Linked DNA regions of Homo sapiens. The protein of the gene in region 1 interacts with the protein of each later gene in a biochemical or structural test. Each region holds a gene or a part of one and is shown on either strand. Other genes may lie near its edges.

Evidence for each region.
Region 2: the proteins of CCND2 (region 1) and NPDC1 form a complex in vitro, tested with the Homo sapiens proteins (one study listed by BioGRID).

The regions. Positions count from the first base shown.
Region 1 is NC_000012.12:4,287,099-4,290,900, forward strand, and holds part of CCND2 (G1/S-specific cyclin-D2), read left to right. Parts: intron 1-1,743; coding exon 1,744-1,892; intron 1,893-3,802. UniProt on the Homo sapiens protein: Regulatory component of the cyclin D2-CDK4 (DC) complex that phosphorylates and inhibits members of the retinoblastoma (RB) protein family including RB1 and regulates the cell-cycle during G(1)/S transition.
Region 2 is NC_000009.12:137,038,958-137,043,474, reverse strand, and holds the end of NPDC1 (neural proliferation differentiation and control protein 1 precursor), read left to right. Parts: intron 1-401; coding exon 402-548; intron 549-2,287; coding exon 2,288-2,413; intron 2,414-2,490; coding exon 2,491-2,661; intron 2,662-2,737; coding exon 2,738-2,804; intron 2,805-2,876; coding exon 2,877-2,961; intron 2,962-3,038; coding exon 3,039-3,118; intron 3,119-3,407; coding exon 3,408-3,504; intron 3,505-3,610; coding exon 3,611-3,703; 3' UTR 3,704-4,012; downstream 4,013-4,517. UniProt on the Homo sapiens protein: Suppresses oncogenic transformation in neural and non-neural cells and down-regulates neural cell proliferation. Might be involved in transcriptional regulation.

The DNA.
Region 1 (3,802 bases):
GTAGGAGGGGCGGGTGGACAGCAGGCGTGGGCGCAGCACCATTATATACGTCCCTCAAGAGGTGGAGATGGTGAGAGGGCAATGGAGAAAAAGCCAAGGAGACAGGCAGATGGCCAGGTTTGCTCTGCGTTCATGATGGGAGGGGAGGGCTGTGCTTGGCTCAGGGATCCACGGTGTCTAACAATGCTGCTAACTTGATGCTGGGGCAATGGGCTGACCATTAAAAGAGCTGCTGTAGAAAGTGTGTTTGTAATAGAGTGTGTACAGGAGGAAGGGGAAATAGGAGAGGGGCTGGTTTTTGTAGATTTAACCTGATTGTTTTTGCTGTAAGTTGAAGGGTGACCCACGGTTCCCTGTATGCTGTGTCTCCTGCCCCCACGTGCCCCTTCCATGTCTACACACAGTAAGCTCACTAGAGCAATGCTAAAACGAGAAAGAGTACGCTTTGGAAGACTTGCTGCACTCCAGGACCGTCACTAGCGTGATGGCTGCAACTATACCCACCCTAATATCTGTCAACACGAGCAGGGGCAACTTAAACTCTCAAAAGTCTCAGGGTTCTCACCCATACCATTAGGGTGACGCTCGTGTGCATCTTCTGTGGCTGATGGGTAAATTAAACAGGACGTAATGTGTAGCGTACTGCATGTGGTGGTCATTGGTAGCTGTCAGCAGCTGTAACAGGAGAAGTTGGCTGTCTTTATTTCCCCTCGATGGACCAAGCAGCTGCTGGATCATGGCCACCCAGCCCCTCTGAAGGAGTGCTCGGAGGAACACAAGGGGGCTGGTCTTCCAAGAGGAGCCCTCTAGCATGGCAGTGGACGGGGTTCAAGCCCCTCTGATTTATTATCCTCATTCTGCACTTCCCTGTAGCAAGTCACATTTTTTTCTCTTAGCAATAAAATGGGGCCTTCAGTCTCATGAGTCATAACATCGAAACCGAGTCACCCATCTGATTCGGATGCAATGATTAATCTTCAGTGCTTAGTTAGAGCCCTATGTTAGGGTTAGAATCCTCTGCCCTAATGTTCTGAGGGTTCTTGCTGTTGGGCCAGAGGTTGGGAACTGGGTGGAACTCAGCCCCCACTCGCCCACTCCCTGCATTGCTGCTTCTCTCATTTCCTTTTTTAGATCAAACCTTTTTTTTTTTTTTTTGGGTGGGGGTCATATTAATCCTCAATGCCTGTCCAGAGACTATAACAAGATCCCATCTGAATTAGCATTATGCATAGATTTTGCCCGTTTCTCCCATCTCCTTGTACTTTCCCTCCTTCTCACATCTGGAGCCCCTGGTCTGTCCTGCTTGCATGGCCCATGGGGTACCTTGTCTGCACTGGTCTCAGGCATTCTCTGCTCTGTTCCCACCATCACCTCTAGAGGAGACTATGACTCGCTCACCTTGCTCCCCCCACCAGGGTCAAGAATGTTAACTCAGACATGCTTAATATGACTGGGATCTGGGGATTGGGGACCTTGAATCCTCTGTGCATTCATTGTGTGCGCTTAGATAAGCTGTCTTCCTTCCCTGCCTCAGTCTCCTTCGTTTAATCTGGAACAGCCATGGTGATGGCAAATAAACACAGGCTCCTTGTGAAAGAACTCGAGGGAGGACATGCCTGTAGGGCACGGGGTCACTCGCGCCGCTGACCTGCTGCCGTCCTGTTTCTGAGTCTCTGCAGTCTCGGGAGCTCCAGGATCCAAATTCGTTCTGTGCCCTGACCTTCTGCCTCTCATTCCTTGCAGACTTTAAGTTTGCCATGTACCCACCGTCGATGATCGCAACTGGAAGTGTGGGAGCAGCCATCTGTGGGCTCCAGCAGGATGAGGAAGTGAGCTCGCTCACTTGTGATGCCCTGACTGAGCTGCTGGCTAAGATCACCAACACAGACGTGGTAGGTGGCCACCACCTTCTTGGCTAAGTCCAGATGTCTCTTCTCAGCTCAGGGAAGGAGACGACGGATTTGATTATGTTGTGTCAGAGGTATTTTTCTGGTTTGTTTCCTAAGATCGACATCCAAGGGAGTGCAAAGTTCAGCAGGTGACACCCCCTCTTAAGGTTCTGAAAAGCTGTGCACGGGAAAATACGGAAGAAAACTCAGCAAGCAGATGAAGGGGGTGGGGGTGGGAGGGCTGTTTACCGATGTTCCTTTATGGCGTGGGCTTCTCAGTGGGTCTGAATTGTTGCTTCATTGCCATATTTGTACACGCTGCCAGGCTGCCTCTGCCCGGCAGCGAAGAGCTGCCGTGTCTGCTTTCACACGCTGAGGCTGTAAGGCGCACAGAGGAGAAAGGAGAGCCAGGACTCAGCTGCAGTGGATGGAGCAGACACACAAGAGGTGCCCCACTGTGAGAACGGTGTCCGTCCCTGGCAAACCTCTCGACCCCTCCCCGCTCTCTCTTCCCTTTTGTTCAATGCAGTAATGGATTACAAAGTGCTTTCAAAAGACAAAGTGCCATACAAACTCAAGAAACTATTATTAGCTACGGAGCTTCCCCATTCTGTGTGCCCTGTGGACGGCCCAGAGGCTGTTAACTTCCTGTTGCCAGAATTTGGAGCTCCTGAGAAGAAAGGTTTTGAGAGAGACCAGGGTCAAGTGAGCCTCTGAATTCAATCAGCAGGAAGCTGCAGTCCTAGCCCGTCCGAGACAGGATGGTGCCAAGAGGTCAGAGAGGCCATTCCTTCGTTTTCCACGGGCAGGACAGGGACTGAAGTAACCAGCCAGGAGCGGGGTGGGCAGTGGCTGAGCTGGGGCTAGAACCCCCAGGCTCCGACTGCCCCCTGGAAACTTCCCACTCCACCCTTGTTGCCGCTCCTGGGATCTTTTGGTTTGAAAAAAAACCCTGGGGTTTAAAGTCAACCTGAGAGAGGGGTGTTGGCCCTGAGCCCTCATGCATCACCATGGAGAGGCTGAAGAATGCTGGGCACTTCACGATGACACCCTCTGGATGGTCCGGGGGGATTCAGATGCCCTCTGCGGGCTTTTATTGAGTTAAGGGATCATGTGGTTTATAGGCCTATGGCTGAGGCCTGCACGAGGGATACGGGACAGGTTAAACCTCAGAGAGCCCACGGCTGCAGCTCGCCGGCCTCCTCGCCCGCCCACCTGGATTTTCCCTGGCATTTGTTCCCAGCTCAGAGAAATGGCGCAGGGAGATGCTGACGGAGCAAATCCGGGGTCCTCCTCTGAGATAGTTCGTAGATATGGTTTTAAAATGCGGGCTCCAAACATACGCTTTTTAAACGAGGACTCCAGAACACAGACTGAAAACCTCCCTCCAGTGCAGCATGAAGAATGCTTTTCTAATCCTCCAGAGGAAAATCGTGGACGGGACTTAACGTTTATAGAAATGGTACGCTTTCCTCCTTTTCTGAATGTCTCCAATTAAGGCTGCCTTACAAATAGGACTCTCAGCCAGTTTAAGACAAGCCCTTCCTCAATGCCTGGAGACAAAAATGTCAGTGACAGGAGTTGGAAGCGGCCACCCCCCTCCTCCTGCCCCCAGGCATTGTAACCTTTTCCCCCGATGTTGATAGACCTGCTCTGATGGGCTGACCACCCTACCGGCTCCAGCCTTTTCCCACCTCCCTTTGTCCCCCGTTACTGATCTCACATGGACAGTGGTGGAAATTTCCCTCCTGGGAGTTGCTGCTGAGTCTCTTGGCTTTTCGAGACCGCAGGCAAGTCAGTCCGTCATCTCATCTGGGGAAACTGTTTGCCTTTTTCTGATACTACGTAGCCAGTCCATTTAAGTCAGCTGGCCAACTCTGTTAAATGGATATGAAGTGGGTACGAAGCTGGTT
Region 2 (4,517 bases), on another chromosome or scaffold:
GGCCCTTCCCTCTGGGACTCCCAATCTGGACGGGGTTCCTGGCTTGCTGTGGGGCATGTTGAGGCCGGAGGCTGGGCTTGTGGGGCTGCACGGCCCTGCCCAGGAGAACTCAGCACTGCCTGGACGGCGAGACTCAGCTTCTGAGCTGAGGGCTCTATCAGGCCTGGAAGTGGACCCTGGGGAGGGGTGGGGCAGGGTAGTTCTGATAAGTCCTAGGACTGTTCGCTTCCGGGTTCTGAGCCCTGGCGTCAGGGAGGAAGGGCATGTCCAGAACAATGGCCAGAACCAGGCCCGGCCAGCTCGGGGGGTGACGGGGGCGGGTGGCTGGGGCAGCGCTGCCGTGTGCAGGGGCCGAGCCCTGCGGGGCCGTGAGCCGGCCCTGCCTTCTGCTTCCTTCCCAGATGTAGCCGCCTGTCCCGGGAGCCTGGACTGTGCCCTGAAGAGGCGGGCAAGGTGTCCTCCTGGTGCACATGCCTGTGGGCCCTGCCTTCAGCCCTTCCAGGAGGACCAGCAAGGGCTCTGTGTGCCCAGGATGCGCCGGCCTCCAGGTACGAGAGCAAAGGGGGAAGTCGATGGGGGGATGTCCCTGCATGAACCTCTCCCTGTAAGAAGCGGCCGGCTGGGCGCGGTGGCTCATGCCTGTAATCCCAGCACTGTGGGAGGCCCAGGCTGTTGGATCTCATGAGGTCAGGAGTTCAAGACCAGCCTGGCCAACATGGTGAAACCCCGTCTCTACTAAAAATACAAAGTAGCCGGGTGTGGTGGCACACACCTGTAGTCCCAGCTACTCAGGAGGCTGAGGCAGGAGAATTGCTTTAACCCGGGAGGCGGAGCTTGCAGTGAGCCGATTCACCACTGCACTCCAGCCTGGGCGACAGTGCGAGACTCTGTCTCAAAAAAAAAAAAAAAAAAAAAGAAGGCCGGGAGCAGTGGCTCACGCCTGTAATCCCAGCACTTTGGGAGGCCGAGGCGGGCACATCATAAGGTCAGGAGATCGAGACCATCCTGGCTAACACGGTGAAACCCCATCTGTACTAAAAATACAAAAACAAAATTAGCCGGGCGTGGCGGCGGGCGCCTGTAGTCCCAGCTACTCGGGAAGCTAAGGCAGGAGAATGGCGTGAACCCGGGAGGCAGAGCTTGCAGTGAGCCGAGATCGCGCCACTGCACTCCAGCCTGGGCGGCAGAGCGAGACTCCGCCTCAAAAAAAAAAAAGCAGCAGCCTGCAGCCTCAATGCCCAGGCCTGTGCCAGGTGGTCTTGGGGCCCCTGGACCTTGTGGGGTGTTGGGTCCAAGGCCTGGGAGATCCTCATTCACTCTCCACGAAGCCTCCCATCCTTTCCAAATGGAGGTGGGCCCAGGCCTGGGGCAGTCAGGCCCTCCCAGGAGAAGGGCTGCACGATGTGAAATGCTGGGATGGCCACGGGAGAGGAAGGGCCCATTCTCCCCGGGCCTGGGCTCTGCAGGGTCTGCCCAGAAGCCCTCCAGGCCCCCACTTCCCCGTCCCCAGGCAGCTTGCTCTTTTCCACCACTCACTGTCCTGTCCGCCTGTTGGCAAATGTTGAAGGGTGCCAGCACTGGCTGGGTGCTGGGGATGCCCCGCTCGCCAGCCTGAGCCGCATCTGTCGGGATGGCCAGTCACTGAGTGACTTCAGGTGTGGTGAGGGCTTTGCTCAGAGGTGCTGGGGGTGGGAGCAGCAGCGGCTTCCTGGAGGAGGTGTTGAGAGGAGCACCGAGAAGTGGCTGTAAGGGTCTGTGTGGATGCACCTCCTGCCAACCTGGGAGCGTCCACCCAGACTGTGCAGCCCACAGTGGGTACCGGTGGAGCCCTGCCACCAGCCCCACCCCTGACAGCTGCCCCCGTTCTCCCAATGACCTGGGGAGGGGTCCCGGGTGCTTGGCTTCCTTCGGCTTCCCCCCACTCCTTGGGGAGTCCCTGCCCCTCTACCCGAGAAGGTGCTTGGAGGTGGGGAAGCAGAAGGGGCTGTGCTGGCCAGCCCTTTATGGACATGGGTTGGGGCGAGAGACCCCACTCCTTCCTCCCCGTGCCCGGTCTTTGGACGTTTCCCTAGCGCCTCCTCCCTTGCCCTGCCTCCACTTTCCGGGAAGCACTGCCCCTCACAGGAAGCGCCCGCGCTGTCACCATGGCAATCTGGGAGGGAGAGGGCCTCCAGGCGTGTACCCAGTCCTCAGGCTCCTGGGAGGAACCTGCCAGAAGCGGGGAGGCCGGGCCTGGGGCTACCTCCTGGACGGACCCCTCCACCTGATGGCCCCTCACCCTCCCCAGGCGGGGGCCGGCCCCAGCCCAGACTGGAAGATGAGATTGACTTCCTGGCCCAGGAGCTTGCCCGGAAGGAGTCTGGACACTCAACTCCGCCCCTACCCAAGGACCGACAGCGGCTCCCGGAGCCTGGTGAGACCCCCGCTTCCCCTGCCCCACGGCCCTGTCCCTAGCCCAGTGCTCTCATTCTAACCTGTCCTCTCTCGCAGCCACCCTGGGCTTCTCGGCACGGGGGCAGGGGCTGGAGCTGGGCCTCCCCTCCACTCCAGGAACCCCCACGCCCACGCCCCACACCTCCCTGGGCTCCCCTGTGTCATCCGACCCGGTGCACATGTCGCCCCTGGAGCCCCGGGGAGGGCAAGGCGACGGCCTCGCCCTTGGTAGGTCTTGGTCGGGGGTGGGCAGGGGCAGCAGGGCGCCCTGCAGAAGGCCGCCCTCACACGCCCCCTCCTGCAGTGCTGATCCTGGCGTTCTGTGTGGCCGGTGCAGCCGCCCTCTCCGTAGCCTCCCTCTGCTGGTGCAGGTGAGCCAGTGGCCGCGGGCAGGGCAGGGAGGGTGCCACACGCTCAGAGGTCTCAGGCCCCACTCCCCACAGGCTGCAGCGTGAGATCCGCCTGACTCAGAAGGCCGACTACGCCACTGCGAAGGCCCCTGGCTCACCTGCAGCTCCCCGGATCTCGGTGTGTGGCCCCCTTCAGCCCTGAGGCTCCCGCCCAACTCTGGCCGCCAACTGACCCTCGCCTCCTCCTTCCCACAGCCTGGGGACCAGCGGCTGGCACAGAGCGCGGAGATGTACCACTACCAGCACCAACGGCAACAGATGCTGTGCCTGGAGCGGTGAGTGGCCGCCCCGGCACTGCCACCCCCACCCACCCACCCCCCATCCCCACCTCCACCTCCATTTCCACCTCCCCTGGCCAACTTTACCCCAGGCCCTGCCACCCTCACCTGCACGCTAACCTTCACCTCCCCCGCCGCCCTGCACCCTCACCTCCCCTGGCCAACTTCACCCTGGGCTGTGCTCCCCTGCCACCCCAGGGCTGAGGTGGGCTGAGTGCCCACTTCCAGACTGGGCCACTGGCACCTCGAGGGCATGGGGAGGACCCAGCGATCCCCCCCCACCCAGGCATAAAGAGCCACCCAAGGAGCTGGACACGGCCTCCTCGGATGAGGAGAATGAGGACGGAGACTTCACGGTGTACGAGTGCCCGGGCCTGGCCCCGGTGAGTGCCTCAGGGTGCAGGGAGGGGCGAACCATCTCCTGGGGTTCCCTCCCAGCAAGTATCCCCCCAGCCCACCCACTGCCCAGCCTGACACCCACATTCGCAGACCGGGGAAATGGAGGTGCGCAACCCTCTGTTCGACCACGCCGCACTGTCCGCGCCCCTGCCGGCCCCCAGCTCACCGCCTGCACTGCCATGACCTGGAGGCAGACAGACGCCCACCTGCTCCCCGACCTCGAGGCCCCCGGGGAGGGGCAGGGCCTGGAGCTTCCCACTAAAAACATGTTTTGATGCTGTGTGCTTTTGGCTGGGCCTCGGGCTCCAGGCCCTGGGACCCCTTGCCAGGGAGACCCCCGAACCTTTGTGCCAGGACACCTCCTGGTCCCCTGCACCTCTCCTGTTCGGTTTAGACCCCCAAACTGGAGGGGGCATGGAGAACCGTAGAGCGCAGGAACGGGTGGGTAATTCTAGAGACAAAAGCCAATTAAAGTCCATTTCAGACCTGCGGCTTCTGCCTGTGTTGCCAGCTTGGGTTAATCTTCCACCGCCTCATCTCCCATTTGGGGCCCTGGTAGACGGACCCCTGAGTGGGGGGCCTGGGGTCTGCTCTTGCACCCCCAGAGGGAGGAGGCCTTTCTGTTCGCTCATTAGGAGGACCTTCCCATCCCGTGGAGCTGGAGGAGAGGCCACGGGATCATCCCCACCCTCCTCAGCCAGGCCTCACCCCTGCAGACCCTTCTACGCAGGTGGGAGAGGGGAAGGGTGTAGTGTAGGGCTGGGCCAGCCCAGGGTTGGCTCTGCGGCCCGGAAGACCCCATCCTGTGTGATAAAGAGGGCTGGAGCAGGTGATAGTCCACACGCACCTGGATGTGGGTGCCCACCACCTCCAGGCAGAAGGAAAACAATGCAGACATTGAGTCTGGGTTTCTCATGGGGACCACGGCCGCCAGGCCCTGCAGCACACGGAGGAGGGATGGCAGGCAGAGGTACCTGTGTGATACCAGCTATGCAGA